3 separate regions of the Homo sapiens genome follow, and all the other regions are reported to be linked to region 1. Evidence: microRNA targets listed by miRTarBase, many of them from high-throughput screens and not tested one by one. Region 1 holds a microRNA gene; each other region holds the end of a gene's coding sequence. Distances are between the middles of the regions.
Evidence for each region. Region 1 holds the annotated microRNA hsa-miR-4632-5p (GAGGGCAGCGUGGGUGUGGCGGA, at 1,265-1,287, shown strand). A microRNA usually pairs through its seed, bases 2 to 8, with sites in the 3' UTR of a target mRNA and lowers its output. Matches are read on the target gene's strand: a 7mer-m8 pairs with bases 2 to 8, a 7mer-A1 pairs with bases 2 to 7 and ends in A, and an 8mer does both.

Region 2: miRTarBase lists CDC42SE1 as a target of hsa-miR-4632-5p. Seed matches in the 3' UTR shown: 7mer-m8 at 1,440-1,446, 7mer-m8 at 1,060-1,066 and 7mer-A1 at 316-322.
Region 3: the mRNA of YTHDF3 is a reported target of hsa-miR-4632-5p. Seed matches in the 3' UTR shown: 7mer-m8 at 496-502.

What each region holds. Positions count from the first base shown.
Region 1 is chr1:12,190,449-12,193,448 of GRCh38, forward strand. It overlaps MIR4632 (microRNA 4632), which reads left to right and starts at 1,265; the gene lies at 1,265-1,325. TNFRSF1B (TNF receptor superfamily member 1B) reads left to right here. Exons shown (of 10, transcript NM_001066.3): 3 at 509-637; 4 at 1,326-1,475; 5 at 1,983-2,076; 6 at 2,415-2,650. RefSeq lists an enhancer at 1,270-1,821.
Region 2 is chr1:151,051,459-151,054,458 of GRCh38, forward strand. It overlaps CDC42SE1 (CDC42 small effector 1), which reads right to left. Exons shown (of 5, transcript NM_020239.4): 4 at 2,773-2,863; 5 at 1-1,869. The coding sequence ends at 2,789. Among named protein-coding and RNA genes, the nearest start is that of C1orf56, 5.2 kb to the left of the region's middle.
Region 3 is chr8:63,209,376-63,212,375 of GRCh38, forward strand. YTHDF3 (YTH N6-methyladenosine RNA binding protein F3) reads left to right here. Exons shown (of 5, transcript NM_152758.6): 5 at 308-3,000. The coding sequence ends at 331. Among named protein-coding and RNA genes, the nearest start is that of YTHDF3, 42 kb to the left of the region's middle.

The DNA.
Region 1 (3,000 bases):
ATTCTGTCTCAAAAAAAAAAAAAAAAAAAAAAGCAGCTACTGAGTCAACTTTTTTTTAAGGTTTCCGTTGGTGTTCTCTGTCCCTGGAATGCCTGCTTTCCAGGCCCATGCCCTTGTCCTTGATAGGATACCAGGGACTACATTCTTACTACCTGTTCCCCCTATCATTCATGCCCCTAGCTGGAGAATATTAGCCATCTATCAAGAAGGAAGAAACTGGCAAGCTAGTTCTTACTAAAGTGTGATTGACTGATAATAGGGCTCCAGTGGTGGAGGTTCAAGCATCTGGAAAGAGCAGAGAGGAATCTATTTTTGAGCAGAAGGGGTTCAGAAATGACGTGATAGCTGGTACAATACTAGATGGGAGATGATTCTGAGGAATTGGAACTCCACAGAATAGCCTTCCCAGCTGGGCTTTAGAACTCTGGACTTTGTGGGGACAGTGGATGAGCCCAGGGTCCTGGCAGAAGGCTCGCCCAGCTGAGACCTCTGGCCCTTGTTTCCTCAGGCCAACATGCAAAAGTCTTCTGTACCAAGACCTCGGACACCGTGTGTGACTCCTGTGAGGACAGCACATACACCCAGCTCTGGAACTGGGTTCCCGAGTGCTTGAGCTGTGGCTCCCGCTGTAGCTCTGGTGAGTAGGTTCAGAGAAAAAGGGGGCCCTTACACCCCTGCCTCCAACTTCCCCCGGCAACTCCAGCCTCTTTGGCTTCCAGCTGTCTGGAGTTACCCCAGGCTGGTTGTTGGAAGTGGCACAGGTGCAGCTGTTTACCCCTACCACTGGCATTTTCCTCCTCTGTCTCACCAAAGCCTCTTCACAGCCCCACGGGGCAGGCGGTGGGAGAACTGTGCCCACGTGAGGGTTGAGGAGGTGGTGCGTGGGAGAGTGGTGCGCATGCTCGTGCTGCGAGGAGCAGGACTGCGGGGAGGAGCGAAACTGCTGGGAAGAGCGGGACTGCGGGGAAGAGCGGGACTTCGGGGAGGAGCGGCACTGCGGGGAGGAGCAGGACTGCAGGGAGGAGCGGGACTGTGGGGAGGAGCGGGACTTCGGGGAGGAGCGGGACTGCGGGGGACGAGCGCGACTGCGGGGGACGAGCAGGACTGCGGAGAGTAGCGGGACTGCGGAGAGTAGCGGGACTGCGGAGAGTAGCAGGACTGCCGGTCCTGCCCCTGGACTCTGGCCGGTGTTGTGTGTGCCCCATGCTGAGGCGGTCCGCCAGCCTCCTGGAGATCCGCTGTCTGAGAGTGCTGGGCTGTCTGGGAGGGCAGCGTGGGTGTGGCGGAGGCAGGCGTGACCGTTTGCCGCCCTCTCGCTGCTCTAGACCAGGTGGAAACTCAAGCCTGCACTCGGGAACAGAACCGCATCTGCACCTGCAGGCCCGGCTGGTACTGCGCGCTGAGCAAGCAGGAGGGGTGCCGGCTGTGCGCGCCGCTGCGCAAGTGCCGCCCGGGCTTCGGCGTGGCCAGACCAGGTACGGGGTGGGGCTCAGGTCCTTGGGGACGCCCATGGGCCTCTCCTTTGTAGACATCCTTGCAGTGTCACGGGCATCAACCCATTAATTAGTCCAGCAGGGAGCACTGTTAGTGGTGGCCAGGTGCCTGCTACCCATCCGTCTGTCCACCTGTCCACCGTTCATTCTTCCTGCCAGCACTCCCGATTAGGCACCTCTTATGTACTGGAACCAGGAGACCCAGAGATGGATCAGACCAAGCCCTAAGCTAGGAAAGTTATGTGATGCTGCAAGATGAACTCACATAACTCTACAGCCCAATCCCGTGCATGTGTGTACAGGAATCTGTGTGTGTGCATGTGTGTACAGGCATCTGTGTGTGTGTGTGTGTGTGTGTGTGTGTGTAAGGGGTGGAGGTGCAGACAGAGCTCCTTGGGCCCCTCAGACCTCTCCTAGGGCTCTAGTGCCAAGGCCCAGCTGTCCCGCAGAGTGTCTGAGTGGTTGACAAGTTCGGATTGTTCCCTGAAGGAACTGAAACATCAGACGTGGTGTGCAAGCCCTGTGCCCCGGGGACGTTCTCCAACACGACTTCATCCACGGATATTTGCAGGCCCCACCAGATGTGAGTAGCTGAGTCCTTTGGTTCTGGAGGAGCAGGGAGGGGCTGTCCCTGGGTGACTGTGGGTCCAGGACACAGAGCAGCTCACCAACCACCATTGTCCAGACTGCTTTATCTGAGGGTGGCTCCCAGGATAAATGGCATGGTGGGCAGGACCTTGCCCTGGAAGGCAGGACTGGGTGGGTGCATGGGGAGGTGGGGGAGGGCTAGGAGGGGGTGGTCCTCAGAGAGGGCACACATCGTCACTCTCCTATCCTGCCTGCTGGGGCCCGTGAATGAGCCCAGCCACCCCAGCCACTCTGTCCCCTGCTGCCTCCTGACCAAGCCTCCTCCTCCTCCAGCTGTAACGTGGTGGCCATCCCTGGGAATGCAAGCATGGATGCAGTCTGCACGTCCACGTCCCCCACCCGGAGTATGGCCCCAGGGGCAGTACACTTACCCCAGCCAGTGTCCACACGATCCCAACACACGCAGCCAACTCCAGAACCCAGCACTGCTCCAAGCACCTCCTTCCTGCTCCCAATGGGCCCCAGCCCCCCAGCTGAAGGGAGCACTGGCGACTTCGCTCTTCCAGTTGGTAAGTCGCAAGAAGTCTCATTCATTCACTCCTTCTGTCTGCCTGTCTTTCTGTCTCTCTTTCTTCCTCTCCCATGGTTTTACTGAGAGCCCACGGGGGGCTGGACCCTGTGCCCTGTCCTGGGATACAGGTGGCAGTGAGACTGCTTTCTCCCCACACCTGGTGCTATCATTCAAAATCCCTAAGTGCGTGGGCTGGATGCAGTGGCTCAAGCCTGTAATCCCAGTGCTTTGGGAGGCCAAGGAGGCTGGAGGATTGCTTGAGGCTAAGAGTTTGAGGTCAGTCTGGGTAACACAGCGAGACTCCATCTCTATAAAAAAATTAAAAAATTATTTGGGTGGGATGGTGCC
Region 2 (3,000 bases), 140 Mb from region 1:
ATGGGTGGTGGAATTGGCAGAATGGATACCAGTTCCTACATTCCTGACCCCACTACCATAAAACAGGATGTTTCCTGTTGCAAAGCTAATGAGACCCCACCCTTCTTGTCTCAGAGCAGGCAGGAGCTCATCTGTCTTGTTCTGCCTTCCTAATTACCCTGGAAGGGCCAGAACGAAGAACACCTGAGAATACTGAAAGTGCCTAAAAACCCCTGCTCCTACGTTGTTTTCCCATTTAAAGCAGACTCTTCAGCCAGGGGGCAGTGGGACCTGGTCTTCAGACAAAACTCCCTGAGTCTAATGTGTGTCTAGGACTAGGGCACAGAAATAGAGCTTAAAATTTGGGGAGGATAAGGAGTGTATCTACTGCTTCTCTCTCCCCTTTCCCCAATCCTACCATACCCTGTTCATATCTCTACACTGCAGGAACCACTTCTCCAGAGGGCAAGAATGGAGGAGGGGGACCTGTCCATCATAGCAACATGCAAACACAAGCAAAACACTGAATAAAGAATTGTTTGGAGATTATGTGCAGCCCTACTGAGCCTCATTTATATGGGCTCCTAGTTGATCCATGGCTCGGGCTTAAGATGAGTAAGATGATGAGGGTAGCGTGCCAAGCAGAAATCACTTCAGAGAAAAATATCTTGACTTTAGAGTTGTGGTTCTCAAATGGAGGCGATTTTGCCCCCTAGGAGAAATCTGGCAATGTATAGAGACATTTTTGGTTGTCATAACTAGAGTGGGCCAGGGTTGCTGCTAAATATCCTGTAATGCACAAAATAGGAAACAGGTTTTCCTTACAAAGAACACTTCAGCCCAAAATGTCAAAGGCATCTCGGTTGTGAAACCTTGTTCTAGAGCCTCTCCCTGCTCCCGTGCTGTGAGGATCTTAAGACTCCTAAACTCACAGATGATTGTTTTCAACCTATTTATCTCACCATCCTCAATGATCAGAAGTCCACCTTGAGATGGACTTACTCCTAGTTCTGCCGCATTCTGGGTTTCTTTCCAGACCCCTCTTCCTCCTCTCACCTGGGCCAGCAGGGAGGTTGGCAGAGGGCAGGAAAGATGCCCCAAAACTTAAATGGAATGTCATCAGGTGAAGAGCTACCTCTTACCTTAACTCTTATTCGGTGGGAAACAAGGTTCCTAATAGGGATAGAGTTAAGGGCGGAGGCAACAGCAGGATGAGGATAATTAAGAGAACCTGAATTAAATTTTTAATATTTTAAAAAAGGAAAGTTGCTGGGAAGCTGGTAAACAGAAACAGAAGATTAGAGGCCTAACTAGAAAGAGACACTGGTGTTAGCAGAGAGATATTGAGGGGCTGTAAGCCTAAGGTTTGAAATCTAAAGATAGAGTGGAAAAGGGAGTAGGCACCCCCACCAGCCCCTGCTTGACATCTGCTTTAGTTCATTCCAGCAGGAAGGAGGAGAAGGGCAGGGAGGTAGGGAGCTTCTCAGCAAAGCCAGCTTCAGCTTTGATAATCTCACCCACCTACCCCATTTAAGGAGTTCCAGGTTTAAGAGTTTAAAAACAGGTGGCACCCAGACCATCATTCAGGAGACAGGAACTCATTCCAGGTTCCTAGAGAACTCCTATCTCAGACCTGAGGGTTTCCAGGGCTTCAGCTGAGCTCCTCTGGCTAACCAGTAGTCACTTGATCAGTCCTGCTGCCTTGACCCCATCTCCAGGAGGGGCTATGGCCAGAGGGAGTAGAGGGAGTCCAGCCCCCAAGCCTTGTGAGGCACTGTTAGGCAGATAGGGAAAAGAGGGGTCCTTAGATCACTGGTTCAAGGAGGGATCTGGTAGGGGCAGCATTTCTTCTGGGCTGGAAACAGAATGGGGGTTTCAAGATGGCAGAACCTGAAATAAAAAAAAAGTTTTTCTTAAAGAAGATTAGCCTCAAAGAAAACCAAGGCTTTAGGAAGAAGGCACTACCTAGTGCAGACTTTAAGCTATTTCCACAGTGTGTTCTTTACTTCTGTCTGCACAACACCCTCTCAGTCTTTCTATATCCTACATTCTTTTTTTTTTTGAGATGGAATCTCACTCTGTTGCCCAGGCTGGAGTGCAGTGGCGCAATCTAGACTCACTGCAACCTCCACCTCCCGAGTTCAAGTGATTCTTCGGCCTCAGCCGCCTGAGTAACTGGGATTACAGGCGTGTGCCATCATGCCTGGCTAATTTTTGTACTTTTAGTAGAGACAGGGGTTCACCATGTTGGCCAGGCTGGTCTCAAACTCCTGACCTCAAGTCATCTGCTGACCTCGGCCTCCCAAAGTGCTGGGATTATAGGCGTTAGCCACCATGCCCGGCCTAGATCCTACATTCTTGAATCTTCCCTTCTAATTCCTCCCTATCTCCCATTCTTTTTTTATATTTTGAGATAGAGTCTTGCTCTATCACACAGGCTGGAGTGCAGTGGCGCGATCTCAGCTCACTGTAACCTCCGCCTCCCAGGTTCAAGTGATTCTCATGCCTCAGCCTCCCAGGTAGATGGGACTACAGGAGCACGCCACTGTGCCCGGCTAATTTTTGTATTTTTTGGTAGAGACAGGGTTTTGCCTCGTTGGCCAGGCTGGTCTTGAACTCCTGGCCTCAAGTGATCCACCCATCTCGGCCTCCTAAAGTGCTGGGATTACAGGCATAAGCCACCATGCCCGGCCACACCTCCCTTTCTTGCATAAGATCAGGGTTCTGAGTCAGGGTATCAGGTTGTGCTGTTATGGGGGCTGAGGTGTTAGATGGGTTTCTCTAATCACTCACCATTCCATTATTGGAGCTATAAGCCCCTAGAATTGCTCCATGGCCTATCTCGGTTTCCCTTGGATCTCATCTGCTCCTGAACTGCACCTGTCTGTAAAAAAACAGATGCGAGACACCTTCGTAAGTCTTCATATCCTACAGTAAGAACTCTACTTTGTGCCTTCCAGGGAAGAGGCTGACGCCATCTCCTTGACAATAGCAGCCATCTGCTAACCACCATTCCTCCTA
Region 3 (3,000 bases), not on the chromosome of region 1:
ACTCTTTGAAAGGACTGAAAAGATGTTATTATATTCTCATCATAAACAAACAATAGGGATGTGGAGAGGATCTATACTCTCCTGAAATAGGTCTTTGTGTTTGAGAGTTCTTTATGTAAAATGTTTTGTGGTAATAATCTCACTATGGTATATAGAGGTAATTATCAATTGTTTTTAATTACTTGAATTAGTACTTGAACTTTATATGGAGATGATTTACATTATATGTGCATATAGTTTAAATCTTTAAATAATGAGAGTTTTTCATTGTAATTCTTTTTGTGTGTGTGTGTTTTTTTTTTTTCAGGAGAGAAATAGAAACAAACAATAACCGTATGAAGATGTCCTGTTAAATTTACAACACTAACGATGTAGACTCTGGAAATGCCTAATAAGTCAAAGAAGACGTATTAAAGCTCTTTTCTGCTTAAGGTGACATCTTTGAACACTTTAACACAAAGTTGACTCTTCTCGTAATGGTTTTCATCAGCGCATCTGCCCTTATACTCTTCACCAAACACACTTGAGAACTGTAACTTCGTCAAGCACTTTCTGTCCTGAAGCTTTTACCAGTATCTGCTGTCTTTTGTAATTATGCATCCTAGCTAAGGCACAGAAGACTGAATGAATGCAAGGATTCATTAACTCTTTGAATTTGTTAAATACTAACAGTTAACCATTAGAAGTGGTTCAATGATGTAAGAGTCACACTGCTTCAACTTTTTCTTTGTTGTAGTTTTTAAATTGTCGATTTTTAGCTATTTGACAGATTAAAAGCAAAATAATCATGCCATATTTAGTCCTGGAGTTCAAGTCTAAATGTTGATGTGAAAAATTATTGTAGTAAACTTTTAATATGGCAAAGCAACCTTAAGCTCTATTTTAGCCAAATGAAACATAATCTGAAATTATATTAGAACATTTCCCTTGTCTTCAAACTGTTTGGTGTAACAGAATATTGATATGCAGCTTGGTGGATTTCACCAGTTAATGCACATTCTTCTTCCCTCCTCCCCCCATTAATATGTATACTGAAAAATGTGCATTTGTCTGAGGAATTATTTTGTTTGCTACCACTTAATGAATCTCAAAATTTTGAGTAAATGTACCTCAGTCTAATCAGACTTTTTATGACCTTTATAACTACATTTAAAACCCTTAATTCCTATTTCTGGGTGTTTGCGAGCCTGATTGCTATCATGAAGTAAAAATTTATTACTCTAGGTATTCACTAGCTAAATAAACATAGTTCTTGTTTAGCAAGCATATGTTGTTCCTCAGCTCTTTTCTCCAGCTTTTGCAGTGTCCTGGCATCCTTAAAATACTTTGAAAATATGGCCTTGATCCATGGATTAAATCAGTATCTAAGTGAATGTGTTGATGTTTTATTGATCAGATCTATATAAGTGGGAATACAGCATATATCTGGATATTCTTATAGTTATCTTTTTAACATCTTATTTTTTTCATTAATTACATATCAACATTAATTTTGTATCTTGAAGCAAATTGATTTTGTATAATTAAATGTGTCAAGCATCTGTATTAATTGATTTGATGGCATAAGGTTATGAAAATAATGTACTGCCCCATGTATTACTGTTCCAAAAGGAGAAAGCTATGTAGAAAGATACATTAAGGGTGAAAATAGCAATACAGTAGATTTGAATACCTTGATGTTTTGCATTACTTCATTTATGTTTACATCATGTTTAGAAATGTTTTCATTTACTGTGGTCTTTGGTCACTTCAGCTCAAAGACCTAGTGATGGATATTTCTTTGAGGCTTTCATTTATATAATTTTATTTTGTACAATGTTTTTTTTAAATGTGCAAATACTGTATTCAAGTGAAAAAAATACAGTATTTGTAGATAACCATAGCTACTACACAGTTCTTCGGTAGTCCCAGTGTAGTTATATCAGTGTTTACTGAAGGGAACATCAAAATATTAATGGTATATTATAAAATAAAGACTTTCTTAAAGGAAAATTGCACCTATTTTACCTTTTTAAGAGTAAGCCATGAAATCTTGTAACATGTCTCTTAACTATTTATAATGAAAAGTGGCATTTGGGTATAGTCACCACAGCAATGTTCTACATCCCTAAGATTATCTAGGTAGGACATGTCAAAGATGACTGTTGTCATTCTGGAGGTCCTATTAGAGAATATTATAAAAGGGTGACCTTGTAGGAAGGATCTGAGTCCTCCCCCTGAGGTTCTCTTTTTCTTGGTGCTTTATTAGCAACTCTGGATATTTTTATAAAACTAGTTACATTATAAACGGTTTCAAACATGTTTAATTTACATTAGGTTTTTATGTAAGAGTGTCATGGAAGCACTCAGCAAGCAGGCTGATTGCAATAGACTCAGACATGCGAATAAATGTAATTGAGAGTCTATTCATGGTGAGGAGTACATCCCAGTGCCTTTAACCTGGATTTCTAATCTTAAGTGAAATGGGTGCAGCATTCCTTTGGAAAAAAAAATCTTTTTATTTTCAAGTGATAATTTTGTGTTTTTCTCATATAAGTTTTCTCCAGAGCACCCACCTTCTCTTCCTTCTTGGTCTGTCATTATATTGCAAAATATTTTTCCTCTGAATGAAATTATCACAGGTTGTCTCAAGCACAACCAACTGAATGTCTCTTAACTGTGGGGACCAAAAGGGAGAGAGCCTGGGGTCTACAAGAGGAGACACATCATCAAATGTTTGAATGATCACAAATTAAGACATTATCAGCCCAGTAAATTTCTTGCTTAATGTTTTTCCAAGTTCTGGCTTGAATATTTCTTATTAAAGCTATCTTATGTGGGTATTTTATTTTGAAAGGTATTATAGTTTGTATATTTAACAGTAAGGAGGAAACTGTAACCAAAATTAGTATTTCTCTATACGTATTGGTACTTGAAGATTCCTTTCAAAAGAAATCCAGCGTTTTCCTAATTTTAGTACTTAATTTCTCTTTTTAATTTAAGTGATCTTTCTAATTCGAA